Homo sapiens: one gene and its partners. The protein of the gene in region 2 interacts with the protein of the main gene of each other region in a pairwise test. Each region holds a gene or a part of one and is shown on either strand. Other genes may lie near its edges.

Region 1 (5,596 bases), on a different chromosome or scaffold from region 2:
ATTTAACCTGCTTCTCCACTCTCTGGGTTTCCTGTACACTGGACTGCTGGTAGAAGCCTGATTAGAAGCAGGTTTAATGTGGCAAAAATTTCTCCTAGCAGTGCAAGGCCCCCTTCCCCAGAAGGCAGGCAGTGTCCATCTGCTCCAGGATTGGTGTGTTTTTATCAAGAATGGATGTTGGATTTTGGCAGTTCCCTTTTCGGCAGCTCTTGAGATGATCACGTGGTGAATCATTTTCTATTACTACAGTGAATTACAGTCACTTGAATTCCATCCTACTGGGTCGTGCTGTAGTATCCTTTTTATGTATGCTGGATTTGATTTGCTAAAATCTTAAGAATTTTTTGGTCTATGTTCATGATAAACTGTGGTCTATAGTTTTCATGTAATATCTGGTTTGGGTATCAGGGTTTTTGCCAGCCTTATAGGATGAGTTTCGAAGTGTTCTCTCCTCTTCAGTTTTCCAGAAGAGTTTGTGTAGAATTGGCATTACTTCTTCCCCTAAATGTCTGGGCGATTGTCTTTTTAAAATTTTTTATTGAGCTGTAAGATGTATGTAGTTTACTAATCCCAAGCGCATGGCTCATTATTCCTTAATGCCCAGACTGTGCCATGTGTGGCCAGTTGGGGGCGCTCCAGGCACCTTTAGATGCCGCCCCATCATTCTGTGAGCACTTTCTTGCTTTCTGGTTCAGGTATGTGTTCAGGCTCATCTTTTCTTGTTTTCTCCGTGTCTCAGTCCTGGAATCGGCCATTTTTCCACAGAGCTATAGTTCCTTATAGCAGGATGGGGAGTTTTAGTAACTGCCTGGGCCCAATGCTGTTTGTGCTTCAGAAGGTTTGGGCCAGGCCCTGGTTCCACCAGCAGCAGGCATGCCTGCATTGACTTTCTGCTTCTCCTGCTGATTTGGCAGGGGCGACTGGCTGCTCCTGCCTCCTTTGTGTTCCCTGGTCATGTCTAAGGCCAGGCCCCTTCTGCCCAGGCAGCCAGCGTGGCTCTCTTCTTGCCTTTTGGTTGTCTATCTAGTGGAATCTGGTAGTGGACCTGGCACTTGTAGCAATGTTTGATCAGTAGAGTGAAGGAGATGACATTTCCCTGCTTCCCTGTGTTATGGAGCTGTCTTGAGGGGGGCTTTTGGTAAATACCATCGTCGAGGTGTGTACAGAATGTGAAGAGACAGGAGATCGGGGAAGGCTGTAGGCACAGCGGGAGCCAGGCTACCTGCAGGGGAGCCTCAGGGGCCCTGGAGTTCCCTGGGGACTGGCCACCAGAGAAGAGCTGCAACATCAGGGCTCTTCCCAGGAACAGAGTGTTGGGTTTCACCTTTTCTTTTGGCCAGGGACCCCTCCCTCCTGGGGAGCTGTAGCCATTTGGCACTTACTGGTCACTGGCGCCAGCTGTGGGGTGCTGCATGTTCTGTTTCATGGTGGTTTATGTCCCATGATCGCTTCCTCTGTACATTCCCTTCAGACCAGACAGTTTGCACACATCTGTGTTTGTGCACAGTTTAGCAAGGACCGTGGAGCTTTACTTGATGGCTGAGGGTGAGCCCCTCAGAGCCACACAGGCTTATGGCACCCCAAGCTCATCCCAAACTTGGGCCTCCCAGGTCTGCCCACCCTTCTCCCTCTGGCGCTGTGCGGGGGCTGGGAGCTGCAAATGAGGGAGGGGCTGTCTACCCTGAAGGGCAGCACTGAGGGTGGAGGGCCCGACCACACCCCTGGTAGGCAGAGGCCCCACGCTCAGGGTCAGCGACCCCGCTCCTCCTGCTCCTTTCCCATGCCTTTGCCTGAGGTGGTCTCTGACACTTGAGTAGATGTCTCATGGCCTGTGGCCATGGGGGCCCTGAAGCCCTCAGACTGCAGCCTCCCTCCCGCCTGCCTCCTCCAGCTGCCCTGGGTCTGGGGCTGCAGCTTTGGCCCCACCTGGCCAGTCTTCCCCACCCCACTCTTTCAGTGCCCCGCACCTTCTGGAGTCCCCTGGAGACTTGCCACCAGATAAGGGCCCGGCCCTGGGTGACAGTGGGGTGGGAGGATGGAGGAGGCTGGCATCCTCCCCACTGCAGACACCCCTTTGGCCTGGCTGCTCTGCTGGGCTGGCAAGGCAGGTGCCCATGGGTGAGGGCTGCTGCCGAGTCCCACCGCCTGCTGACGGGCTCTCATCCCTCCCAGTGCTCAGGCAGGCGCTGCGGCAGAAGCACCAGGAAGCCCAGCAGGCCTGCCGGCCCCACAACCTGCCTGTGGTTCAGGCGGCTCAGCAGCGAGAACTAGAGGTACTGGGGGCGCAGGCAGGGTGGCCGGCCCAGCTCTCCTGTGGGCACCACCTGGCTCTGCTGACTGGGCTGAGCTGAAGGGGTGTGGGGGCTCAGGCATGGGTGGCTGTCCTGGGCCTGAGTGGGACACTGGAGGCCTAGTGAGTCCCACCAGGTGGCTCCTCTTTGCGGATACCAAGTGTGCTGGGGCTGGGTGGAGGTTGAGAACCCACCAGTGCTCCCCTGGATAGCAGCTCCTCGTGGGTTTGGGCCTCCACAGAGCAGGTGGCCTCAGGGGGGTACAAAGGCAATGGTAGGGTGTTGGGGCCAGGAAGGGGCCCATCCTTCTCCCAGGGAGCACAGGGACAACCAGAGACTGGCATGTAACCAACAAGCCGTGGGGCAGGGTGTGCCTGTGGAGATGTGTGTGTGGTCCTAAGGCAGTCCCAAGCCAGGGCATTCGTGGAAGCCCCTTGGGGCCCCCTTCAGGGGTTCACATGGCCGAGGAGAGGCCTGGGTGTGGTGAGGATGCACCGGTGGTGTCAGAGCTGCTGCCACTGGGGACGGCAGCAGGAGCATGTGTTTGAGCTGCCCTCACCTCCCCGCCCCCTGATGGCAGAGCTGCCCTCACCTCTCCCCCTCCGCGCCCTGGCCCCATGGCAGGCCGTGGAACACCGGATCCGTGAGGAGCAGCGGGCGATGGACCAGAAGATCATCCTGGAGCTGGACCGGAAGGTGGCTGACCAGCAGAGCACACTGGAGAAGGCGGGGGTGGCTGGCTTCTACGTGACCACCAACCCACAGGTCAGTGCCTGGGCCTGCTCTGCCCTAGCCCGAGTGCCCCGGGGCCCCATTCCATCTGGGGTTTTACTGCTGGTCCCTGGGGAGCCAGGCTCAGGGTATGGGGGTGAAGTGGAAGGATTGAGGCTCTGGAAAGGATTTCTGTGCCATTCCCAGCACGGAGGCCAGGCCCATTCCCTACAGGAGGGTGAGCCAGCCAGCCATGGGCACTGCCCACCCTCTCCAGGCCTGCTGTGCCACACAGGGCCCTCTTCTGCTCCCCTCCCGCATGCCATTCCGAGTGGCCCTGCTGGGGGCAGAGGCTCAGATTCCGAGTGGCCCTGCTGGGGGCAGAGGCTCAGATTCCGAGTGGCCCTGTTGGGGGCAGAAGCTCAGATTCCACCCTGTCCTGGCAGGCCATGACCAGGCTTCACAGGATGGTCGCCCCCGTGGGCTCACTGCCTGGCACCCTTGGGCCGGGATGAAAGGGGCCTGGGGGTCACTCTGGCCTTCATGGGGCCCCTCTGTATCCCAGGAGCTGATGCTGCAGATGAACCTGCTGGAACTCATCCGAAAGCTGCAGCAGAGGGGCTGCCGGGCAGGGAATGCAGCCCTGGGACTGGGAGGTCCCTGGCAGTCGCCTGCTGCCCAGTGTGACCAGAAAGGCAGCCCTGTCCCACCATAGCCACAGGCAGCAGAAGTCTGGGCAGAGTTCATCTTCTTGACCTTTGGCCACTGCCTTCCCAGCTGCCCGCAGGGGGTTCCCCCTGCTGAGGAGAGACCAGGTGGACCCCAGCTGCCTGTCACCCTTCATCTGGGACTTGCTGTCAAACCCTAGGATAGTCTCATAAAGGGGAGGCTGGGCCAGCCTGCTGCTGTCTGCTTCAGGACCAGGCAGAGAGTGAGGCTGGGGGTTCTCACACCTTACTCCACCGGGCACATCCCAACCTGCACTGGGGCCCACCCGAGCGCTTGTTCTGGTCTCAGCCGCTCCCTTGGCAGCTGCAGCCCCCATGCAGAAGAGGCTCCCAGGCCCAAGCTCTGTGTGACCCAGAGAAATAAAGATGCCTCAGTGTGGCCCAAATGTGGCTTGTGTGATAGCTGCAGGTTCTGCCATAACCGGGGCCCTGGTAGGGCCCCCACCTCTGTTGCAGCAGAGGCCTCTACCTGGGGGCCCCTTCCTGGGCTGTGTGCCCAGCCCACCACCCCTCCCCCTGCCTGGAGACTGGGACCCTCCAGCCTTTCCTGCCCCAGCCCTGGTCCCAGGATGCTGTCACTGCCATCTGTACAGGGGCCCCCATCCAAGCCCCAGGGCATGAGGACCACATCCAGCCTGCTTTGTGGGGCTGGGGGCTGGAGAGCATGGGAGAAGGCCCGGAGTGCAAGTATGCGCCTGCCGCAGCCTGGTCAGTGTCCTGTGGGAACCACTAGGAGGAGCCTGATGCAGGTCACTGGGATAGAGGACTCAGGGTGGCAGGAATGGCCTGAGGAGGAGCCCTGCGGGGAGGCATGCCAGGGCCACCTGGGGAGCTTGGCTTCTGCATCTGCATGAGTCCCCTCCGTGCTGGCCTGGGCCCATGGGCCCTGCTGGGTCCTTGTGGAGTCAGGGTTGGGGGTGTCCAGCACCCTGGGTGGCCAGGTCTGCGCAGGGCCTGGCCTCCAGGAACAGATGATGCTGGAAGCCAGAGTTTGGGATGAGACTTCTCTGACCCTGTCTGAGCCACTCCCTCTTTGTTGCCCAGAGCTGACCCTGTGTGAGGGCAAAGGGCTCTCAGCTGCAGGAACAGTGGTTTATTGACCAGGCAGGCCTCCCCAGCCCGGCCACTGCTCCCCGAGGGGCTCGGGCTATGTGGGCTGGCCTTGGGAGAAGGTGGACAATCCTCTAGGTCCAAGGACATGGGGGTCACAGAGGTGGGGGCCTTGGGCCCACACATCCGAGGAAAGTTCCTAACAGTTACCAGCGGCTATCCCAGGCAGGTATCAGGGTCAGCCCACACCTGAGTGCCCCCACCATTGGCAGGGCTGGGAGGCACCTGACTCCACCTCCAGCAGCTCTGCAAGTGTGGGGTGAAAAAAGGTGAATCTGTGTGAGGATGGGGTTGGCTGCAGCTGTGGTGATGGCCTGGGCGGGGGCGGGGGGGTGCTAGGTGGGGCAATGGAAGAGGTTGCCAGTTCGGAGCCACCTCAAGAGCTCCAGCCACAGCAGCTGCCGCTCCCGACGGGCACCCTTCACGAGGCTGCTGTTCTCCAGGGCGTGGCAGGACACGTATGACAGCACCTACAGCCCTATACTTGTACACAGGGTAGCCAGCCTGGCCTGCATGGGGGCAGATAATGCCATGAGGCCCAGGCCCAGCACCACACTCCATCGCACCAGGGAGGGCCCCATTCACCCAGCGGGAAGCTGATCTGGTCACACATGCCTAGCAGCTGTCCAAAGTACAGTAGGATGCAAGCGCAGCTCCTCCATCCTGTGCAGGTAAAGCCAGGAGCTGAGGGCTAATTCCAGGACACTGTCCCCGGTGCAGGGGTACAGGGCCCCTGTCCCAGCTCTGACCCTGTCC
Region 2 (9,425 bases):
CCCGGGTTCATGCCATTCTCCTGCCTCAGCCTCCCGAGTAGCTGGGACTACAGGGGCCTGCCACCACAACCCCAGCTAATTTTTTTGTATTTTTAGTAGAGACGGGGTTTCACCATGTTAGCCAGGATGGTCTCGATCTCCTGACCTCGTGATCTGCCCGCCTTGGCCTCCCAAAGTGCTGGGATTACAGGCGCCCGCCACCGCACCCGGCCTGATACTGAGTATCTTAAGGAAATGAATGCCTGAAGAACCAAGCAAATCATCTCAGACCAGAGGTTGGCAATGTTTTTCTATTATAAGCCAGAGAGAAAATATTTTAGGCTTTGTATGCTGCACAGTCTCTGTCACAACTACTCAACTCTGCAAAAGCAGCCCTAGACAATATTCAAATGATAGACAGAGCTGTGTTCCAATAAAACTTTATTTACAAATGGAGTGGCAGGCCTGATTTGGCACAGAGGCCATAGTTTGCAGACCACTATTTTAGACCCTTGGAAAATTTTGCAATATCCTATCACCCAAGAATATTTAGACTGTGGCTTTTTAACTATTCTAATCAAAGTGTGGAAAAGAATATATGAATTTAACATAACACTGATCATTCAAGATGGGCCCACAGGTGGTTTCCAGGACGGAAGGTACTAACTCATCCCTACCACTACTTATCAGGAAACTTGCTATCATTTTACCTACATTCTCTACTTTAATTCTCACAAAAACCTTGGGAGGCAGACATTAGAATCCCCACTTCCCAGATAAGGAAATGAATGGAAATTTCCTTCTCACAAAGAAAGAACTAAGTTGCACAGGCAACTTTCAGACCTGTCTCCCTCCAAGGTTCCTGCTATTTCCACTACACTGTTACTAGCTGGGGAGGGATGGTAATTCTTCACATGTGCACCTGACCAGCAGGTCCAAGTCCAGAACCCAGGGAGAGAATCTACAGATGGAGTGACTTCTTCATCCAATTGGCCCATCAAGCAAATCTCAAATCCATTGGTTGGGGCTTGAAGATTTCTACTTCTCTGTGCCAGCAGTTCTGGGCTTTGTCACTTTATGCTCTAATCTTAACCAAAAGCCAGGGTTCACATTTAGTCCACAAACTAGGGTCATGGGCTAGGTAGGGAGGAGGTAACATTCACAAAGTGAATGTTTTCTTAACCCTTTCCAGAACCCCATAGTACAGTCATTTCAGCTCATGCCTCGAGGGTGTTTTCTGAAAAAAGAAAGTGCCCTTTCAGCACTCTTGGTGTCTGATTTCAAACCCTGCCCTTCCATCGGGTGACTCTAAGTGGGCTGACATGCTGCCCTGTTTTTACTGATTTTCCCACACGGTTTAGTCACCCAGGTGCCCTCTATACCACATACTTGGGTTCAGGCTAAGGGGGTGGGTCCAGAGCCCAGGGTCTCTCCTACTTTTCCTTTAAGGCTTAAAGGACAATTCAAGATAATTTTGATTTGTGTTCATCTGAACATGTGGAAACATTCACCCCAGTTATTCCATTGATGAGCTTACAATGTGGTCTCCCTTACAATGGAGTTTTGATCTATCTGACTGGTCTCCAGGGTGTGAGCAGGAAGCATGCCCTCCAGCATCCCCTTTAAAAAATTTGGGGGACAGGTGCAGTGACTCACACCTGTTTGGGAGGTCAAAGCGGGTGGATCACTTGAGTCCAGGAGTTCGAGACCAGGCTGAACAACATAGTAAAACACCATCTCTACTAAAAATACAAAAAAAAAAAAAACAGCTGGGTGTGGTGGCGGGCACCTGTAGTCCCAGCTACTAGGGAGGGTGAGGCGAGAGAATCACTTGAACCCAGGAGGCAGAGGTTGCAGTGAGCCGAGATCGCGCCACTGCACTCCAGCCTGGGCAACAGAGCAACACTCTGTCTCAAAAAACAAACAAACAAACAAAAAAAGTCTGTTCATCTCTTAGAAGGAATTAGAAATGAAAAAATGTACTACAGAACCAAGAGGGGAGAATATGGCAGATGGTGAATGCAGGGAAGCAACTCATATCTCAGAGGCTGATGCAGACAGAGCAATGAACATGACTTCGGTGGCACCTCACTTACTAAGGATAGATCCTCAGTGTGGATATGATTTTTACCCCCACTTAACATACAAAAAACCTAAGGATTGAGAAAAAGGAAAGTGGCTTGCTCATAGAAGGTAGGAGCTGAGGCAAAACTCCTTCCAGGGGCTCACACAAAAATCAAATGATTCAGCCCTGAGTGAAAGGGCACACAGATGCTTAGGGGCCCCCAGTAAAAAGATGAATGCCCACCTGCTCTCATCCACACAGCACTCACAACAGGGTCAGCTGCCATTGTCCCAGAAAGGATAGGCTGCCGCTGCTCCATCGCCTGTTGGGAAGAGTGGCGTGCCAACAATTCTTGAATATTCCTAGTTATCTTGGAAGGAGTCCATAACTCTCAAACCCAAATTAAAGCTCATTTCTCTTTATTTTTTTAAAAAATTGACCTTTTGATATCAAACAATGGTGGGTCTTCACAACCTGAGAAATTTTGAAATCACTCTTCTGTGTTACTGGTTAATCAGCTTAATTCCAGAGAAATTTACATAAGACATAAAGCAAACAATAAATTGGTGATGACAGTGTCACATTTTAATCAATGAAGTTATATTTTCCGAACTTTAGTGGATCCAATCAAGTATCTTTCCATAAAATAAAAACATTCCCTAATATATCTTCTTCTGTAAATCTAGATTCTCTTATATTAAGCTTGCTTGAGGCACAGCATACTAAAATTAATTAAAACGAATTTTAAGGAACCAAGAATCTTTAAGAGAAAGACAGAGCAATTTTTGGTCATTCTTCTTGCTTGAGGAAGTATAGAACTAGCCCCAATAAGGTTCAACTCTCAGAAGCTGATGAGTTGACGCTGTTTACCTCGTGAAAAGAATGTTGTAAATAATCTGTATTATTTCAGTTATTAGTAAGGTAAGTCGCTGTTTGGTCCACATAAAGGAAAATAAAGTTCACAATTGTTTCATCCAACTCCGGGGATAAAAATCAAGGCCAAAGATAAACCCACTGCATCCTTTGCAGTGGGATGGACAAGCCTTGTCACAGAAGGGGAAAAAGAATGACGAAAGGCAAGACAGTGGAGCAAGTGAGGACACGCTTCACCGAGCCAGATCTCCACTCCTCCCAGGGTATCCACAGGGACAAGTCACACCTGGCAGAAAGCTAAGTCACTCAGCTAGAAACAGGCCCAGGGAATTCAACAGAAGGCTGAAGAGCCACTGCTTATGGAAATAAAGCCCCTCCTGTAAAGAACTGCATGGCTTTTCCCTCCCAACCCCAAACCCATCCCACATCTGGCTTTTGTTGTGTGAATCATAAACTGCCCTTTCTTCACCACAGTGATTCATGCACAGAAGCGGAGGTACCCTGAGCCGTCCCACCTTGGAACACTAGTTCGTTCCCCTCCAGCCTGGAAAATCAGCATCACCTCTGACAGGCTGGTTTCTCCACCAGGCTCCATCCCGCCCACCTCCCCCCTCCCTGCTCCGGGGCTTGGAACCCAGACCCCCTCCCCCCGTGGCCCCATCACCTCCACCACCAGCTCCCCAATTCCAGACCAAGCTGTGATCGCCCTGCCCCGCTGGCACTCGCTTGGGTCTGACAGCCACAGCCAAACCACTTACGTTTTTGCCAGAGCATGGCCTGTGACAGGATGTTGCCTTTTCTCTTTGAAGCCGACAGTTTGGCTTCTTTAATGTGAGACCGGGGTGTGTTTTCCTCCAGTGGAGCCACCGCTTGAGCTGAGGCTGTTTCCTGGGCTTTTTAAAGGCCTGGGTTCCCGCTGCGTGGGCCGCGTCATCACATCCTCCCACCTCAGGCACCGGTGCAACGTTTCTGCAGCCAGGCCGCCTGTCACCCCACTGTGCGCGCCCCAGCGGCCCCGGCCCAGAGCGCTCCACACTCGGAGCTAGCCAGCTGGGACAGAGCAACAGCGCAGCGCGGGCAGCCACAGCCTGCACCGGCCCCGCGGGGACCTGCTGTGTGTGGGTGTGAAGGTGGTGTGGGGCAAGCTGTGGGAACCCCGTGTCAAGCCCTCCCCAGGCCAGTGATGAGCCCAAAAGCTCCTCTGGAAAACGTTGATCTTTGCACGGCGCCCATGCAGGCTTCCAGGCCACCAGGGCATGGGCAGGACTCAGCCCGCCATGGGCGCCTGCTCAGCGGGAAATGCGATTCCCAGGGGTCACTGGTTCTCAACTGGGAGGAAACACCTGTCATCTCTTCAAGCCTCAGTAAACAACCTCCTCATTCTTTCAATATTGCTTTTCTGTTTATTCCATTTTGAAACACAGTAGCCCCTCCCCTCGCCCCCAGCCACCCCCAAAATGGCAAGGCTTAATCATGCTGAAATATGGGGGCGCTGGCTCTGATGTCGGCTATGCCCACGGAAAAAGAGGCCAACCCTCAAGGAAGGAAGGAGAACATGCCCGTGCTCTTTGACTGGATCTGGGCTTGTAGGCACAAGATGAACAGAGCCTCTTTGCGAGTGCCCACCCACTGATAACAGGAAGCTTCTTTAAGTAAGTCATGGGCTCACCATCTGGAAGTGTAGATGGTGTTGGCTACCGGTTCCTTCACAGTTTGGAAGCCTTCTGCCACTGCATATCTGAGGTCCACATGCTCAGGCTCCAGGGACTCAGTCAGTTTGGGGTCAAGACCCCTTGGCACACCCCCTAGAGCAGGTGTGGGGCCTTGCTGCTCTGCCATCCATACTGCCTCAGAGCCATCTTGCACCACCTAGACCTGATCATGCTATCCCCTAGCCTACAAAGCATTCACCTTCTCCCTTCAGCCACAGAGCTGGAGGCCTAGAAGGCCTCCCACAATCGAGCCGTTGCCTTCCTTTCCAGCCTCACCACCAACTGCCCTCCTACCACTGGTCCCAGTGCCCTCTAAGCACCACCAAACACCCATGCAATTCCCTGCCTTTGACCTTGCCGTCCTCTCTTGCCGGAAGGACAAACCCCCAGCCCAGAGAATACTTGTTCGTCTTCTCAGATCTTAGAGCACTTTGTTCATTATGTGATGGTGAATTGTCACATGACTCTGACAGTTTCTCAAGGAGGTTTCATCTTTGCCTCTCCAGTGCCCCACACAAGACCTGGAGCATAGTGACCCCCAATAAAAATTCATCTGATAAAGTTATGAATTACTGTCTCTAATCGGTTGCTGATTTGAGGGCAGGTCTTGAGGAGAAATGCTGTCAACATTTTATAAATGATTCACTTAAAAGCCAGAGAAGGCTGTCTCCTGGCTGCCTATAAGCCCTCCCCGCAAAGCCTCTGAAGTTCAGGACAGTGGAGGCCCCCATGCTGTGGTGGCTGGCAGCCCACACCCTGGCCTGGCAGGGGGCAGCATCTCAAGGCCTTGGGCTGCGCCAAGGAGTTTCCATGAGAAACAGAGGCACATCCCTCAGGCCTGCCTCAGTCACAGGAGACGTGGGTTCCCATGAAGGCTCTGACACTCACTCACTGTGTCCCCTTCAACAAGTCACATAACTCTTCTAGCCTCAGTTTCCTCATCTATAAAATGAAGAACCAGTTCTGTGAGTGTCTCACAGGTTCGTAGGAGGATATGTGGCCTCGCTGGTCCTCTCTCCCACGGGTCTGTCTTTTGTCTCTTTTGGTCATGTCTTATTCTCTCCAAGTCCGTGAAATTCAGAACTTTTTCTTATTCATCTCAGTTTCTCCCCACAGGCCTAGCATGATGATTTCCACAAAGTAATAATATAACCACTTACTGTGCAAGAGGCTCCATGTTAAGCCTTAAATACATTACCTAATCTAGTCACCACAACAACGCTGCAAGGAAACGTCTACCTGTATTGTTCAGAGAAACAAACAAATGCTTAGGGAATTTCATCTGTCCAATGTCACCAAGCTATCAGGTTATAGGCTGGTGCCAGACCCAAGTTCATCTGACTAGAGCCAGAGCTCTAAATCATTAAAATAAAAGATATTTATTAAGTTGAAAGCAGTAAATGCCAAGTGTCAGCCATGTTTGTTAGTAGTAATATAGGATCATTATTATTAAAACCTGAAGCAGATCAACAGAAGCTATATCCCCCGGAATAAATTTCTGTCCTCTGGAAAGAGGGAAGGAAAAGGTGAGACCCAGAGCTACTCTGACAAATCAGATCTTGTACAGTGGCAGAAAAACAAAATGTCAGTGGGCAAGCCCACCATCATGGCCAGCGATAAACCCATCACCTCTTATGGCCTCACAGCTCATGAGGCAGATTCCAGCTCATTTCTTCCAGCAAATACCCTGCATATCAGTGACCACATACAGGCAGATGCTTTGGAATCAAGACTTGATCGAAACAGCAAATATTTTCCAGGAAAACATTTTCTGTGACTTAGAATCAAAAGTCAAACTGCATGGCATAGTTCAAAAGAGGCGACTATGTTTATGCAATGTCTCAAGAAGTGGAAGAAAAGAAGAAAAAATCTGTGAACATGGTCCAGATGACTCCAAATACAGGTGTGCTCACATTTTTAAAGAATCTGATATACAAACATCAAAACTTCTAAAATAATTTATTAAAGCGCACTGATTCATATTGTGAAATAAATTTTAGCTTTGCAAAAAGATTCACCATCGACTTCATTTCTTCCATCATTTAATAAATATTTACAGAGTGCTTATTACATGTCATTACCTCTGCCAAGTCTTAATCTTTTCTTTTCATTTAGCCTTTAATCATCTTCATTCTCATCATTTTTGATTTATGAAAAGCCCCTATCTTATTTTGCTCAGTAATTTATTTATTCATTCATCTACTTTCCCCCTCATTTTCCATGTCTATTCTTTTTCCTGTCCCCTCATACCCCCATCACCCACCCACCATTCCAATCAGGGCAACTCTTTTCAGTGGTTGATGCTGAAGCTTTTATTTGTAGACATTTGTGCCTGTTCTTATAAGATCTGTATTGTTTGGCATGTATAGATTTTTAATTTATGTAGGTGATGTTATATTACACATTTCACGCTGTTTCTTATTTTTTAATTCAGCACAGTGTTGTAAGATCTATCCACATTGATGTAGACATTCTGTGCACCACTTTTAACACCTGCAAAGTATTCTATGGTGTGTGAGCGCTGCATTTCACTTAAGCAGATTGTCTCCAACTTCCTCTTCCACAAACAAAGCATTGATGAACATTCTTATATGCATCTTTTTTCAGAGGCATGTGAAAATTTCATTGAGGTTATATGCCCAGAGGTGGAATTACTGGGCCAAAGAATAGGTGTATATTTAATCTGACTGAATACTAATCTGTCCAAGACTTCCACCAGCAGTTCATTTTTCCACCAGCTTCTCATATTTCCACTTTACCACCAAACCTGACATTATCCAAGGTCTAAATGTTGCCAGTGTGGTACATGTAGTGATAGCAACAGTGTAGTGTGTGTGTGTGTGTGTGTGTGTGTGTTTTAGTGTAATAGTGTAGTGATAGTGTAGTGGTTTATTTTACATTATAATACTAATAAATGGAAGCATGTCTTCATATGCATGTTAACCCTATGGAGTTTCTCTTCAAAATACCTCTTCAATCACCTCTTGGCCTTTTGGCTAAGATCAAGTGTAGTATTTGTTCTTGCCAGTTTAAAATGTCTGTTCATTCCTTTGCCAATTTCTGTACCAGGATTGCCCTTTTTCTTGTTGATCAGCAGAAATTCTTTGCACATCTGTGTTCTAGATGTACAATTCTAGATATTTTCAGTTTTACTCAACACAAATTTCTTCACTCTTGTCATCTGCTAACTTTATTCATAGTGTGCTTTTTTTGAATAGAAATACATACTTTAGGTACATGGACCTATTTTATTTTACTGGTCTCGTTGTTCTTGTACCTTAGTTTTTATTGTTATTTATTATAGTACAGCTTAAATTTTTCAGATAAGTCTATCAAGTTCCTCAAAAAATTCCAGCCAGCATGGTGGCTCATGCCTGTAATTCTAGCACTTTGGGAGGCCGAGGCAGATGGATCACCTGAGGTCAGGAGTTTGAGACCAGCCTGGCCAACATGGCGAAACCCTGTCTCCACTAAAAATACAAAAATCAGCTGGGCATGATGGTGGGCACCTGTAATCCCAGCTACATAGAAGGCTGAGGTGGGAGAATAGCTTGAACTCAGGAGATGGAGGTTGCAGTGAGCCGAGATCGCACCACTGCACTCCAGCCTGGGTGACAGAGAGAGACTCCCCAGCACCCCCCCCAAAAAAAACACTGAAATTTTTATTGGTTTTCATTGAATTTGTAGATTACTTCAAGCAAGAGTAATATCATTATAAAATTAATTTGGTCCAGCTGAGCATGGGACAGCTCTCCATCTCTTCAGATCATATTCCATGTTTTTTATTATTACAGTTTTTAAATTTTCTCCGCAGAAGTACAGTATATTCTTAAATAAGCTAATTCTCAATTATGTTATAGTTTCTGTTGATATTGTGAATGGCATCTTGTTTTTTATATAATTTTCTAGTTGGTTAGTGATGCTATAGAAAAATTCTAATATTTGAGAGTTTATCTTATTTCTAGAAACCTTGCTGAACTGTTTTATTTATTCTAATAGTTTGTTGGTTATCATAGTCTTTCTAGGTAGAAGACAATCTCTTCTGAAAGTAACGGCAGTTTTATTTTTTCCCTTCCGATTCTTCCATCTCTTGTTTTTTTCCTTTCCTATGGTGTTGGCCAGTACTATGACAAGTAATAATGCTAATAGTGGTTATTCTTGCCCTGTCCTTGTCTTACAGAAATGACAAATTCCTAAAATTAAAAAAAAAAGATGAAAAATCTTTGAAAGGCCTCATGGACAACAATAGAGATAAGGTAAAACAAACACTTGGATACGTTATAATGAAACTTTAAAACAACTAATACAAACAGGACATTCTAAAAGCTTACTAAGAAAAAGAATATATTTATAGCTAAGGAACAAGAATCAAAATGACAGTATACTTTTCCACAGCAAAACTAGATGCAAGCGGATAATGAAGAAATATTTTTAAAGTATTTAAGAAAATGAACACTGAACCTATAATTTTAAATCTAGCCAAATTGTCATTCAAATATTGTAGCTAATGAAGATGTCTTCAGACCTACAAGACTCCCATTAAAATTGCTCTTAGAGAAAGCATTCAAATGAAAAGAGTGACTCAGGAGGATGTTGCAAGAACTATGAGAGCAAAAGGTAATCAAATACTGGGTAAAGTTTATTATAGGAATTTTCTTAAAGCTGGGAAAAGGAGAAAATTCATCCATAACAACACAAAACAAAATATCTTTAAAATAACATGATTACACAAGTCCAGAGAACACCATTTATATTATATTTAATTTTCCAAAATGTGGCCCTTAAGGAGATCAAAG
Region 3 (9,273 bases), on a different chromosome or scaffold from region 2:
CAGAAAAGGCAGGAGCTGGTGCCTGGGAAGTTGGTTGCTGGCCATATCCCTGGAACTGCTGAGGTTGTTGAGGTCCAGTCTGCTGACTATAGCTTGCTGAAAAGGCAAAATAAATAACATGTATCTTATCTTTTAGTAAAACTACTTTTCCAAAGAATTAGTCTTACTGTTAGGTGGACCAAAAATGGTGAGAAATTTAATAAATATGTATGTAACAAGCAGAGTGGTAGATTCCATCACATAATATTTCAAGACCAAGTAGTTATCAAAGAGGCATTCTCTACAATTTTTTAAACTCTCTAAGACATAATCCCTGAGAGCAAATTCCTGACATAGCATAATTCCTAGAACAGATGCTCAAATGATAAATGAAAGAATTATACTTTCTAGGAAGACCAAAAATGGGAAAGCTAAATAGTCATTAACCAGGTTTTCAGGGGAGACCTACTTAACAGTATCAAATAAAAACACATTGCGGAGAATGAACATTTTTATATGAAATAATACTATAAATACATCTTATTGTACTAATCAGGTGCTTTAAATTTTGCAAATAAATAAAAAGTACCATTTTCACAATCTTTAAAATCATTCCTTTTAGATTTGGTATCTGATGTTTTTTGCCTTTACAACTCAAAATTTTTACTTAGCAGTACAGCATAACACATAAAAAGCATACCATATTGCCCCATAAAAAGCAACATCTATATTCATTATTTACTAGGATGTAATTTTTTTTACAACGAAAGTCTGCTTCACTGAAAACTTTTATCTCTACCATGAAACACACCTGCAGCTACTTGCAATGAAACCTCTCCATTGACTGGAATCCTGTCAGCATTAAATACCAGATACATAAGAAAATTATTAAAATATGTACAACCCTGCATTAAAAAAAAAAAGGATTGAATGAATTTGAGTATATTCTGAACTCACCTTGAACCTGGGTTCAAAATTTACTCATGAAAGAAACCTTTATGACATAGTCCATGAACAAAACTGGAAAAGGTCAGAGGGAAACTGGCAAACCAACAGTGTCAAAGATGGTCCAATGTTACCACCACCACCTCTTAGTCTCCAAGCAGAGTATTTAGTTGACTATTTCCATATCTCTCAATCAAATTCAAGTTAATAGACTAGTAGGATCAGAAATACAAAGATAATAATTTGAAAAGACTAAATTTTACTCAGAGTGAAGACCCTGACTAAATTTATTAAGAGCAAGCTTAGTTCTTAATAAGTAAATCAAGTATCTTTAACGCATTAACTCATGGTAGCATCTAAATACTGACCTGAAACCAACTCATAAAAAATTCTGAATGTCATACAAGTTCTCCTATCCTCTACATAAAACTTAAATTTTCACTATAAGGTTTTGAAGAAATAGATGGATTCAGCTTTATACTGAAAATGCCTATTCATTTTAACACTGCGAGAAAAAAGAAAAGTGCCTTTTCATCCTGGCACCTGAAATCTGAATTGTTTTTTTTTAACTGGGCCTGGAAGTAATCTGATCCTTAATTATTGCTTAGGGGAGGGAATAACCCTACAGGCTGAAGATTTCATTAGCAGCCCACCAGTCTCTTGAACATAATGTGGCAATGCTTCTATCATGTGTGTGTGTGTATATATATAGTCTCCCTTCCGTCCCTCCAAAATAATAAATAACTTTAGGTGAAGGACATCAGAAATAGCAAAAAAATGGAAATATGGAAATTATGTGAGTTTTTTTTTTAATACATAGGACATCTAGCCTTTTATGGAGTAAGTCTGCCAACTCCAGTCTAGGTTGTAGAATGCAGAATGATACAGGGAAATACTGAACTGATCCAGCTCCCTCCACTGAATGGCTGTATGTGCTTTGACAAGTCACAATCTCTTTCAAAACTAGTTGCCTCATTTATAAAATGCAAACGCCTGAGTCCCACACCCAATCAAATGAAATTCAAAATCTCTGGGAATGGGGCCCCACACATAGCCTCCCCCAGGTGATTCTAAAGCATAGTGAGGACCGAAATCCCGAGATTAAATGATGACTAAATCTCTTCAGCTCTGCTATTCTTTCTATAAATAACATAGTTTGTAACACTGATTTTTTTAAAAGAACTGCATCCTAAAAATAACCTTCCTCCTGATATAATCCAAACTTAAGTTCTATGTATTTTATACAATTAAAAACAAGTAGCTACAAGTTAAGTCACTCTACAGCAAATACAATCTAAATAAAATTGTGTCAAAATATTTCAAATTTTAATTAATGACAGAATGTTATGGTCTAGGTCAGGAGTCAGCAAACTTTTCTGTAAAGAGCCAGATAGTAAATAGTTTAGGCTTTGTGGGCCACATGGTCTTCTGTTGCAACTACTCAACTCTGCCATTCTAGTGCCCAAGTAGCAGTAGAGAATATAAAAGTAGAAGTGTGTTCCAATAAAACTTTATTCAAAAAAACAGGCAATAGTCCAGATTTGGCCTGTGGGCTATACTTTACTGACTCCTGCTCTAGCTGATACCACAAAACTCTATAAAATAGAATTTAGACTAGATTCAACCTGCATAAATTATTTCTAATTACAGTTGAAATTCTGATACTTCAATCTTTGGCTGTAAAACAAGAGTTGGACACAAACTCTCTGACATAACTGTAAAAAATACTGGAATTATAGCCAAAGTTACATTAATAATATTTATCATACTTAAATACATATAATCTTCAGTGGACAGATGGTAAAATAGAAACAAAATACTCAGGATGCTTATTTAAAACAACTAAACAATGTTCTTAGTTGCCTGAATTACATTTTATACGATTTTATTTTTATGGCCTATTTCTGGTATTCCTACATACTTGCAAGAGATTTTAAAATCTAAGTAGCTTAATTGAGCTCTTATTTAAATAACATCACCTTTCCATGTATAGTAAACTGTTCATATTTCTACAGGTACTAAGAGTACACTGGAATTACGTGTTACATATAAATGGAGAGGTGGAGGGAAGGGGGAAAACTTGCACTAAGTCGCCTAAGAGATAAACTGATAATGTTAGTAAGACAGCTTTGTATTAAAAACTTTTTATACTACAAGTTACTGCAGAATCATCTACTGTAAGTTTTATCTCCCCACCAGAAAACTGAAATGTTGATTTACAATATTAATGTAAAATATTTAAAAATAAATAAAACAAATGTTGTTTCCCCTAATAAAAACTTAATACCTATTATATCAATGTACTACAAATCAAGGAATTAAGAACTTAAAGTTTAATGAGTATAGAAACAAAAAACCATGAGCCAACTCCCTTTCAACACCTGCTCACCTGAATACTGAATACCATACTGTTGAGGCTGCTGAGGTGGAGCCTGCGGCTGCTGTGCACCATAGCCGGCCTGTTGCTGGTACTGTTGGTACATCTGACCTGAAAACACACACACACACACACAAGGAAAAAAGGCATGTTTAATGTGGCAAAGAGAAATATTTTTAAGATACATATACATTCCCTCTCCATCCAAACAGAGTAACAATATACAAGAAAGTATTTGTTCAACTTTAAATGTCTATGAAGAAGAGAATGAACCATTTTAGAAGTGTGATTCCTCTGCTGTGGATTAACTGCAGAGAACTAACTGGCAATAAACATTAAGTGCAACACCAGTGGCTACCATTTCATAAAGTCTAGAAAAACAAATGTTTTCCAACCCAGCTGCCAACAGATAAGTAACGCTAATGTTCATTAAAAGCCAAGTGAGTTGAAAATCAGTAAATAAAAATGAGAAAAGGGACAAATACCATTTATATCATCTAAGTCCTTCCTAAAGCACTGTATTTGCCCTCTAAAGGTATGGGCCTCTATTACCATATGAACAAACTCTTTGGTAGCAAGGAACTATATGACATCTTTTGTTCCAGAGCTGAAAGACACTTTTGGAATTTGTCAAGTTTGATTTTCTATGAATATCCAACATCTTTTGCCAATAACGTGGACTCTAATAAAGTCTAAATGGTTCTTCATTGCACTATTTAATAATGGCAGACCTTTTTAACAACGGTGATGTGTTCTTGAACATGGGAGTCCTATTTGTCCTATTTGGGGTCAACAACCACTGTTCCTATGAAGAAACCCTTTAGACACTTATTACCTATGATTTTTCTTTTTACTTTTTATTTTTCTGTCCTCACAATCTGTTCCCATACCTGTGATTTTCAAGCAAAGATTTATTGGTTTATGTCTTTATTATCTCTACTTCTCAATTATTTCACAATGGTTGATTTAGCTAGATGTAATATCTAGTAGCAATAACCTTGCATTTTAATATCTATCTGGTATTTAAATCTTTAAAATAATCACATGTTGGCTGATTCTTTGAAAAATATTCAAACTACCTATTAATCAAAAGACTATGAGCAAACCAGATACTTACTGCTGAAGTGAGAAAAAAAAAAAGACATTATATCAACTCCCACTCAAATCGAGCTGCAGTAGGCAGCTAGGACTCACAGGCTTAGAAAATGAGACGGAGCCCACTCTATTATACCAGCTGCTCAGCCCTATACGTGTCTAAGTTTTTAGTGCTGGGTAGCACTAAAGGAGATACAACTATGTTTATATCCAGCTTATTTCCTAGCAAATGTTTCTTTATAATAAAAAAAGAATACAAATAAAAATCAGCTCAACTATTTTAAGCTATTTATCCTATTCCCAAATATGACAAGAAAAAAAAAGAAACGCTTACAAAAGTTTCTTAAATGCTTTCTTAATGATTTAGACTAATAGCATAAAAGGTAGCACAGAAATTAACCAAATTTAGATGCCACCTTAATCCTGGATTGTACTTCATAACTAACTTTCGGAATAGAAGTGACCAGAATCTAAAATAAAAAGGTAAGTAGGTACAGAAATATAATCAAGGGGAATAAATACGTATAGCACATAACAATGAACTCTTAATTCTTGAAAATTAGAAGGCTTAACTCCACAATAAAAAAATAAGCAAACAGGCAATAAACACATTTAAAAAAATTCAACCATATTAGTATTCCTTATCTCAGATACAGAAAAATTAAGCAACTTACCTGCAGTCAATAGCTAAGAACAGAACCATGAAGAGCTAAGAACCATCACTGGAACTCAGGCATAACTCCAAAGCTTTAGTTTATAAAGTCATTTTGCATATATTATCCCATGAACAAAACAATATAAATATTAACTTGGGCATCATCAAAAAAGGCTGAGATTAAGGTTCCACGTAGTAGTAGACTGTGGTCATCAATGAGTAAGGAACTCCTGGTCAAAACCACAGTTATTCCCCTCAATAAAAATTTATAGGGTACAACTCTTCATAAAGCTTTTTTTTTTTGCATGTTTTCATAAACTGCTATAAATTGATTTTGAAAAACATCCCTAGAGTTAAAAATTTCAGAGGTTTATTATATCTCTACACAAGATTCCTTTTACACAGCAGATCCTCAAATAACATCTTTTGTTCGACATTGTTTCGTTAAAACACTGAGAAGGAAAAAAAAATTATTCCCAGTTGGGGTTACTGTTCTGTGTAGAGTCTGCACATTCTCCCCAAGTCTGTGTGGGTTTTCTCTGGGCACTTCAATTTCCTCCCACATCCCAAAGATGTGTATGTTAGGTTACTTAGCATGTCTAAATGATCTCAGTCTGAACGACTATGGGTGTGTGTGTGGTTGCAATGCACCCTGCAATGGAATAGCAACCTGTCAGGGTTGGTCCCCACTTTGCTACTGAGCTGATGGGATAGATTTCAGCCACCCACAACCCTGAATTGGAATAACTGCATAAATCATTATCTTATTTGTTTTTATTAATCTTTCTTAAATGTATCTATAACTCACATTTGTTTTTAGTCTTTATCTAGAAGTCTGGGGGTATTTTTGTGATCAGAGATATGCTGTAGGAACTCAACTTACTCATATCAATTAGCCTATGGTAGAACTGATTTCCTCATACGTCATCTCACTTAAAGTTACAATTTCCAAGAACCTATCAACAATGTTAAGTGAGGATTTACGGTACTTACTTTAAACCCACCTCATTCAAGTCCAAATGGGACTGTCACAGTATTCTGAAAATTAATTAAGAAGTCTGTTTAATTGTTTAAAAAAAGAAAAAGGATGAACTTCTTCACATACTTGAGAGATCTATAGGATATATGAAGAGAGCAAAATGCAGACATTGTTTATAGTAAGCAATGTTTTGAGTAATAAAAAATATGGTCATGCATTGCTTAATGACAAGAGTAGGTTCTGAAAATTGTGTCACTGTATAATCATATAGTATACTTACACAAACCTAGATGTATATAGCCTACTACATAGCTAGGCTATATGGTACATAGCAGTCTACAAACCTGTAGAGCATGTTCCTGTACTGAATACTTAGGCAATTCTAACACATGGTAATTATTTGTGTATCTAAACATATCAAAACATAAAAAAGGTACAGTGAAAATATGGCAAAAAAGATAAAAAATGGTATGCCTGCCTAGGGCACTTACCATGACTGGAGCTTGTAGGATTAAAAGCTGCTCCAAGTGAGGTACTTGTGTTGAGTGAATGTGAAGGCCAAGGACATTACTGTGCACTACTAAAGGTTTACAAACGCTATACACTTAGGCTATACTACATTTATTTTTTAAAATTCCATTTCTTCAATAAATTAACCTTAGCTTACTGTAATGTTTTTACTTTATAAACTTGATTTTTTAACTTTTTTAATACTTTAGCTTAAAGTACATTGTGCTACTATACAAAAATATTTATTCTTTATATCCTTATTCTATAAGCATTTTTCTATTCTTTTAATTTTAAATTTTTACTTTTTTAAACATTTAGAAAAAAATTATGACACAAACATACACATTAGCCTAGGCCTATACAGCATCAGGATCATTGATATCACTATTTTCCACCTCCATATCCTGTCCCACTGGAAGGTCTTCAGGGTCAAGAACATCCATGGAGCTCTCATCTCCTATGATAACAATGCCTTCTTCCGGAATACCTTCTGAAGGACCTATCTGAGCCTGGTTCTACAGCTTTGTTTTTTTTTAAATAAGTAGGAGTACACTCTAATGATTTAAAAATATAGTATAGTAAATTCACAAATGAGTAAGAGAGTCACCTATCATCATTATCAAGTATTAGGTACTACCCATAATTATGTGAGCTACACTTTTATATGACTGGCAGTAAGTCTGTTTACACCAGAATCACCACAAACACGTAAGTAATGCCTTGTGCTACATTATGATGGCTACACATCACTAGGCAATAGAAATTTTTCACCTCCATTATAATCTTATGAGACCACCATCATATATGCAGTCCACTGTTGACTGAAATGTTATACAGTGCATGACTATATATAAGCTATGTTTTATGTATATTTTCAAAAAGAATCAATGACAGAATAAAGTAAAAAGTAATAAAAAAAATTAAGGGGAAAAGAGAACAGGATGAAGCAAAGAGTAATGGTAAGACTTCTGGGAATTATTTATTACACAGAGTAGCCAACCTCTATCATGACCCTCAACGGCTTCTGCACATGTATAGCATTTATGACAATGGGTTGGTATCGTTTATATTCTTAGAAATTAGAAAGATTTAACTCCACAATACAAAAATGACCAAATAAGCAACAAGCACATGAGTATCTGCTCCCTGTTAGTCCCTCACATACTGAATAGGGCTGACCTGTATACCAAGAAAATATTGCAGAAATGACAGTGACATTTCTGAGGACAGGCTATAAAAGGTTATCTTCTACCTCACTCTCTTCTGATTACTCATTCTGGTGAAGCTGTCATGTCATGAGGTCACCCAAGCAGCCCCATGGAGAAGTCCAAATGGTAAAGAACTGAATCCTCCAGCTCTGGTTAAGCTTCAGATGACTATAACCCCAGCAGCCATTTTTAACTGCAACCTCATGAGAGATGCTGAGCCAAAATCACCCAGCTAAACCATTCCGGGATATCTGTCTAAAACTGTATGAGATAATTAACTTTTGTTGTCTAAGTATCTATGTTTTGGGATAATAGTTACACAGTAATAAATAATACACATAGTTTTGATTTTAGAAACATGTAAGGGATTTTAGAAACATGTAAGTTTTTTCTAATGGCTATTAGAAAAAACGACTCAAGACACATTAACAATGCAAAGTGTGAACCTTGTTAGGCCCCTCATTTGAACAAGTCAATTTAACAAACGAATCTTGAAACAATTAGGGAAATTCAAACACAGACTAGCACACGTTGACATTAAGAATCACTGTTGAGGTTGCAGGTGAGCTGTAATCAAGCCAGTACACTCCAACCTGGGCAACAGAGTGACACCCTGTCACAATTAAAAATAAAAAGAATCACTGTTAAGTAACAGCATGGTGGTTATATTAAAAAGAAGATTATCAGTTGGACATATATACTGAAATACCTGAGTATAATAAGCTGTTCATAATTTGATTTAAACTACTCCAGCAAATTAAAAGGGGTGCAGTGGGGAAAAAATGATGAAAAAAGAATGCCAAAATATTGGTAAGTGTTGAAGCCACATGACTACATGAAGAGTTGATTATTCTATGTATGTTTCAATATTTACATAATAAAGGCTACTCAGCTTTTCATTATATTGGCATATGATTTTAAAGATTTTAATTATATGCTTTTTCATTTTTTTAGGCTGTCAAACAGCAATATCTCCCGATCTCTGATGATTTTTAGCGTTCTTCTCCTTACCAGTTACATTTCTGGCAACATCACATAGTCTTCCTGTAACAGGCACTGGCTTTATATGAAAAAGAGTAACATTATCCCTTTTGGTTTTTTTTTAATGATGCTCAATATCTTGTTGATCCTTTTAACTGAAAAACATATTAAGACTACATTTATTTGGAATAAAATTCACAGTTCCAAAGTCCCTTTTATGGGAGTTAAGTAACAACTCAGAATTCTTAATTTTAGTATGGACTATTAACACATTGTAAGAGATTGCTATGTTAACAAATTATAAGTAATACATTTTATGTTGGTAATTCTGCTCAAATTATAACCAGTAGTTGATCTAAATAACTGACAATGTCAAAGACTCATTATACAACAAAAAGTAAAAGTAGCCTATAATTCATGCTGGGAATCTATAAATAACGACTATATTTATCTAAAGCTGTGCTCTTAAAATAATCACTAGCTACATGTGGCTATTGAGCACCTGAAATGTGGCTTGTTTGAAATGTGATATGTTGTTTGTTGT
Region 4 (5,428 bases), on a different chromosome or scaffold from region 2:
AATGCTCTCCCAAATCAGAGGGAATGAAGACACTCTCTGGGTGGCATTTGTGCAAGGCATGAGGCTATGCTGGTGGATAAAAGGCCGGGAAGAAGTTGAAAATGGTTTTAGTTTAACTGTCCAGAGCCAGAGCTGGGTCCTGGGCGGCGTGGTTTTGAGCAAGGTCAGTCTTTCATTAGCTCTCTTGCACATCAAGGGAACGGGCCTCTCACGTACTCTTCTCGCCTGAGCAAAGTTTAGATGGCCTAGGGTAGAAATGGCAAGTAATTAAAGACAGAGTCTATGGGTTTTCTGGGATCCTTCGAAAACGCCCTCCCACCCCGCCCGCTATTCCGCAGCTCCACCCTAGTGCTTTGTAGCCGCGGCGCTGGGCTCTCCTTGCAGCTGCCTCTCCTTCCAGGGCGGCTGCTTGTCGAGCCAAGTGGGAGTGAGGCGTGCTTTTTATAGCAGTCGGGTGCAAAGAGGAAGGGGGATAAAAAGGAAATCAAGAATGAAAGGAAAAAGAGAAAAAGCGGATTACACGGCTGGGCCCGGCGGAGATGTGTAATGTGAAACATCACTGGTGTCAGCTCGGATATCTCAGGCCAGGCCTCTCTCCAATACACAAAAGCCGCCGTCTGGGGCGACAGGGAGGCCCGATGTGGATTGGGATCGGGGTTGCGGCTGGGCCACCGGACACGGGTGGAAGCCGGCCGGCCTGGGTGGCCGCCTGCAAAGCCAAACGACCCGGCTGGGCCTGGCGCGCGGACAGGCCTGTGGTGGGCTTAGGGTAAAGAAGAGGCAGAGCGAAAGAAGGGGGAATCTCCAAAACTACCCTTTCCGGGTTCCCGGAGTTTAATATGCCAAGCTCCTGGAGTTAACGAGCTGACGAAGAGGTGGTCTTTTGCTCTTTATTTGGTTGTTTTGCTAGGCGAGAAAGAGTGTTGGCGGCCTAGTCCCTGTTAAGGGAGCACGTACCAGGGGGTGGGGGACGACAGTGGAGGTCAGGGAAGGAAGGGAGGAATTGCGTGGGAGAAAGAGCGATCCTCTAGTGCCCTTCCAGCCCCTTCTCCTCATCCGTGGGTCTGTGGCTTTGGAATGGAAGCAAGTTTGCAAGGTGCCCCGGGAAGGGTTGGAAAAGCCTGCTGCCCCGCGTTTGTTTTACATTAAGTGTTTTTGGACCTGGAGAAACGCCTGGCTGAGTGATCAAACCGTCCGCAGGTCTCCATGCGTTCGGCTGAGGTTTGTGGCGTAGCTCCGAGTCCCAGCTCGCAGGCCAGAGCAGACCAGGTCTCCTGCGCTTGGTGGAGACCCGGGCCAGTAACTGAAAGCTGGCCCTGGTATCTTGGTGTGCAGGGCGGTGCAGTGAAGCGAGGCCAGGGTGTGTGAGTGCGCTAGCGTGTGTGTCGGGGGAAGGCGGGGGTTGGCCTCCGATGGAAGTTTTAGTAATCTGCACTGTGGCATCTGTTTGCTCCCTTGCCCCAACCGCCCCCAGGTTTGGTTCAAGAATCGTCGGGCCAAATGGAGAAAGAGGGAGCGCAACCAGCAGGCCGAGCTATGCAAGAATGGCTTCGGGCCGCAGTTCAATGGGCTCATGCAGCCCTACGACGACATGTACCCAGGCTATTCCTACAACAACTGGGCCGCCAAGGGCCTTACATCCGCCTCCCTATCCACCAAGAGCTTCCCCTTCTTCAACTCTATGAACGTCAACCCCCTGTCATCACAGAGCATGTTTTCCCCACCCAACTCTATCTCGTCCATGAGCATGTCGTCCAGCATGGTGCCCTCAGCAGTGACAGGCGTCCCGGGCTCCAGTCTCAACAGCCTGAATAACTTGAACAACCTGAGTAGCCCGTCGCTGAATTCCGCGGTGCCGACGCCTGCCTGTCCTTACGCGCCGCCGACTCCTCCGTATGTTTATAGGGACACGTGTAACTCGAGCCTGGCCAGCCTGAGACTGAAAGCAAAGCAGCACTCCAGCTTCGGCTACGCCAGCGTGCAGAACCCGGCCTCCAACCTGAGTGCTTGCCAGTATGCAGTGGACCGGCCCGTGTGAGCCGCACCCACAGCGCCGGGATCCTAGGACCTTGCCGGATGGGGCAACTCCGCCCTTGAAAGACTGGGAATTATGCTAGAAGGTCGTGGGCACTAAAGAAAGGGAGAGAAAGAGAAGCTATATAGAGAAAAGGAAACCACTGAATCAAAGAGAGAGCTCCTTTGATTTCAAAGGGATGTCCTCAGTGTCTGACATCTTTCACTACAAGTATTTCTAACAGTTGCAAGGACACATACACAAACAAATGTTTGACTGGATATGACATTTTAACATTACTATAAGCTTGTTATTTTTTAAGTTTAGCATTGTTAACATTTAAATGACTGAAAGGATGTATATATATCGAAATGTCAAATTAATTTTATAAAAGCAGTTGTTAGTAATATCACAACAGTGTTTTTAAAGGTTAGGCTTTAAAATAAAGCATGTTATACAGAAGCGATTAGGATTTTTCGCTTGCGAGCAAGGGAGTGTATATACTAAATGCCACACTGTATGTTTCTAACATATTATTATTATTATAAAAAATGTGTGAATATCAGTTTTAGAATAGTTTCTCTGGTGGATGCAATGATGTTTCTGAAACTGCTATGTACAACCTACCCTGTGTATAACATTTCGTACAATATTATTGTTTTACTTTTCAGCAAATATGAAACAAATGTGTTTTATTTCATGGGAGTAAAATATACTGCATACAAATTGGTCTGGATTCTTTCTCCCCTCCTCTGTCACTAACTTGGCCAGGACATCTCAGTCACTGCTTCCTAAACAAACCAGTTCCCTCTGCCTGCCTAGTTAAACATACAAGGCAGCAGTCCTTATTTAAATTTGGTAGAAATAAATGATAGCCATTCATCAGAAACTAAAAAGAAAAAAAAAGGCATTCCCGGGGGGGAAAAGGGCTACAAAATCTAATTTTGTCTCTCCAATTTTTCTTTGGCTTAAACCTAGAGGATTCCATTATGGCTAGCAAATAATATGAAAAAGAAAAAAGAAGAAAGAAATTTAGCAAGTCCATCAGCTTAAAATGACTCTCAAGTTTACTCCTTTACGGGGAAACCTACACCTCTAGCAAATTGTTCTGGAGAAATATTTGTGCATGTATACATGTATAGTTTATATGCATTTCTCTCAGGAGGAATACATCTATAATAAATTTACAGGGAAACATCTCCAGTTCAAAATATTTAGGCTTCCACGTTTATCTTCAGGCTTAAGTAGAGAGATCCTTCATGTTATATTGCATTACTATTTCCAAATCCTTTGGAGACATTAAAAGAAACAAAGATGATTTCTAATAACTACAGCCCTTCAGTTTCTCAAAGAACTCAGGGGTTGAGAGGTTAGAGTGGAGTTTCCTGAGTCTTGTCGAGCAATATGTAGTTGAGGCAAAGGTCATGCTCCCGGTGTTTTGTTTTAAATAATATTGACCCATTAATTCTAAACCTGCTTGTTCCTGAAATTATACAGGATTATAGTTTGCAAACTGCAGGACAATGAAGCAAATCAAGATGAATTACAGCCCTGGCCCTCCCTGCCATCCTCTGACATCTAAACAGGGAATGAGTTCGGTGTGAGTGTTTAAATGAACTTTAAGCACCCGATCCTTCTTTATCCGCGATTTTCAGCTTTAAAAAAATGTGAAATTTGATTTCATAACAAATAGAAACAAATACCACTTAGTCCCAGAGAATTCATCCTCATGGCGCTAGGAGGGTCGTTGTGGAGGTGGGGGGAGGGATGTGCTGAGATCTTTTGTTATGCTTGTCAACCCCCCGCACAACCAAAGTGGGCGAGAACAAACACCACGCTGGGGAACTTAGAGCAAAAAGTAACCGCCGATTTTCTGGAGCCGACAATATCATTGTTTTTTCGCCTTAGTTGCTTTCATCTGAATGAAACTTTACCTAGAAGCTTTTGGAGCTCGAACACTGAGTCTTTGTTCTGCAAGAAACTGCTGCTGCCACTTAAAGAGATCGCAGATAATGTCCCCGATTTAAGATCAGTGCTCAACGCACACTTTCTTTCTTTTTAAAGCTCTGCCTCCGACTTGCGGAGGGATCACGCAGCAGTGGGGGGCAGATAAAAGCCCTTTGGACGAGGGTCACCTCCCACCATGTTGTTCACTTGAGAGCAGTGGAGAGGAAAACGGTCCCCACGGGCGGACTTTGGCTTCTGGAGCCGCAGGGCCCAGCGGTCCCGGCCTCTCCGCCTCTCAGCCTGGTAGGGGGCGGGGAGGGCCAAAGGGCGGAGGGGAAGGAAGGAGCTAGAAGAGGGGATTTGGGGATGGGGGCTGGAAGCGCTAACGAGACCTGCCCGGAGGATTTAGGTCTCCTGCAGGTTGGTGAGTGATTTGGGAGCTCTGGGTAAAAGAGGTGTACCTCGGCCTAGTTTGGTTGCTGAACTAGAACAACGCGAGGACATCAATCAATCTGCAGGAAACAAAAAATGGAAGTCGAGGTTTAGGAAGAGTTGTCACTTCCCCGACTTGAGTGGTGCAGGCTGGGGGCGGAGACTTGGGACCTAAGAGAGGCCATTTCTCTCACCTCAGCTCCCTTCCCTTGGACTTCCAAAAGGAATAATTTTACTCTCTCCTCCGTTCTCCCCACAACTCTCATCCCCGCTAGCCCGCAGGCCGCCTGCCCCTTTCCGCACCTCCTTTTCCCATCCAGCGAGAGAAACCTAGCTCCCAGAGCCGGTGCAGTCAGTCCCCTCGCCCCTCCCGCCCCTGCACGGGTCCCCCTCTAGCCGTCGCTGCAACCACCACCTCGGTTCCACTCAACCGATTTTTGCTGCATGTCAACACTTATTACCGGTGAGTGTGAGGGTATTTTTTCTCCTTCTCTAGGTCTCTTAATGATTTCTGAGCTAGTTGTGTATTAAAGTGCTTAAAGGAACCTTTAACATAATCTATAGCATGAGCACCAACCTTCCCCGCTTGGGTTCAAAAATGGCGAGCTCGAGGTTGGGCCCGGAGGCGCCCAGGCCTCACTGGCCTCAGCGCACTGCCGCCGTGCTCCTTGAGCGCTCAGAGGTTCGCCAGGCCTGGGGCAGGAACCCCGCGCAGACGATCCGCCGTCTGGGGGCTTTCTCCCCGCCACCCCCTTCCATCCCTCACCTGTTACTAGCAGGCACCTTTTCTTCTCTCGGTATCTTTGGCCTATCCTCGGGTTTTGTTTTATTAAAAAAAAAAAAAAAAAGTAAACCTCTTTAAAAATTTCCAAGGCCCCAAAGTCTTCATTCCGCTAATACCGATTTCAGATTAGTGGAGACCTGGGAAAAGGTGTATACAGCCCATGATTGTCTCTCCTTCCTCCCAATTCCTAAATCTGAGTTTTAGTGTTTACGACTTGGTTAGAAATTTAATTTTTAAAAACATGTTGGAGA

The links.
Region 1: the proteins of POU2AF1 (region 2) and DGCR6L interact in binary tests that used the Homo sapiens proteins (3 or more experiments, as listed by UniProt).
Region 3: the proteins of POU2AF1 (region 2) and TFG interact in binary tests that used the Homo sapiens proteins (3 or more experiments, as listed by UniProt).
Region 4: the proteins of POU2AF1 (region 2) and PITX2 interact in binary tests that used the Homo sapiens proteins (3 or more experiments, as listed by UniProt).

The regions. Positions count from the first base shown.
Region 1 is NC_000022.11:20,312,796-20,318,391, reverse strand, and holds the end of DGCR6L (protein DGCR6L), read left to right. Parts: intron 1-2,172; coding exon 2,173-2,273; intron 2,274-2,915; coding exon 2,916-3,056; intron 3,057-3,567; coding exon 3,568-3,717; 3' UTR 3,718-4,154; downstream 4,155-5,596. UniProt on the Homo sapiens protein: May play a role in neural crest cell migration into the third and fourth pharyngeal pouches.
Region 2 is NC_000011.10:111,375,487-111,384,911, forward strand, and holds the start of POU2AF1 (POU domain class 2-associating factor 1), read right to left. Parts: upstream 3,790-9,425; 5' UTR 3,692-3,789; coding exon 3,676-3,691; intron 2,367-3,675; exon of another isoform or gene 2,364-2,366; coding exon of another isoform or gene 2,288-2,363; intron 1-2,287. UniProt on the Homo sapiens protein: Transcriptional coactivator that specifically associates with either POU2F1/OCT1 or POU2F2/OCT2. It boosts the POU2F1/OCT1 mediated promoter activity and to a lesser extent, that of POU2F2/OCT2. It recognizes the POU domains of POU2F1/OCT1 and POU2F2/OCT2.
Region 3 is NC_000003.12:100,738,972-100,748,244, reverse strand, and holds part of TFG (protein TFG), read right to left. Parts: intron 3,413-9,273; coding exon 3,314-3,412; intron 97-3,313; coding exon 1-96. UniProt on the Homo sapiens protein: Plays a role in the normal dynamic function of the endoplasmic reticulum (ER) and its associated microtubules. Required for secretory cargo traffic from the endoplasmic reticulum to the Golgi apparatus.
Region 4 is NC_000004.12:110,614,735-110,620,162, reverse strand, and holds the end of PITX2 (pituitary homeobox 2), read left to right. Parts: intron 1-1,474; coding exon 1,475-2,038; 3' UTR 2,039-2,740; downstream 2,741-5,428. UniProt on the Homo sapiens protein: May play a role in myoblast differentiation. When unphosphorylated, associates with an ELAVL1-containing complex, which stabilizes cyclin mRNA and ensuring cell proliferation.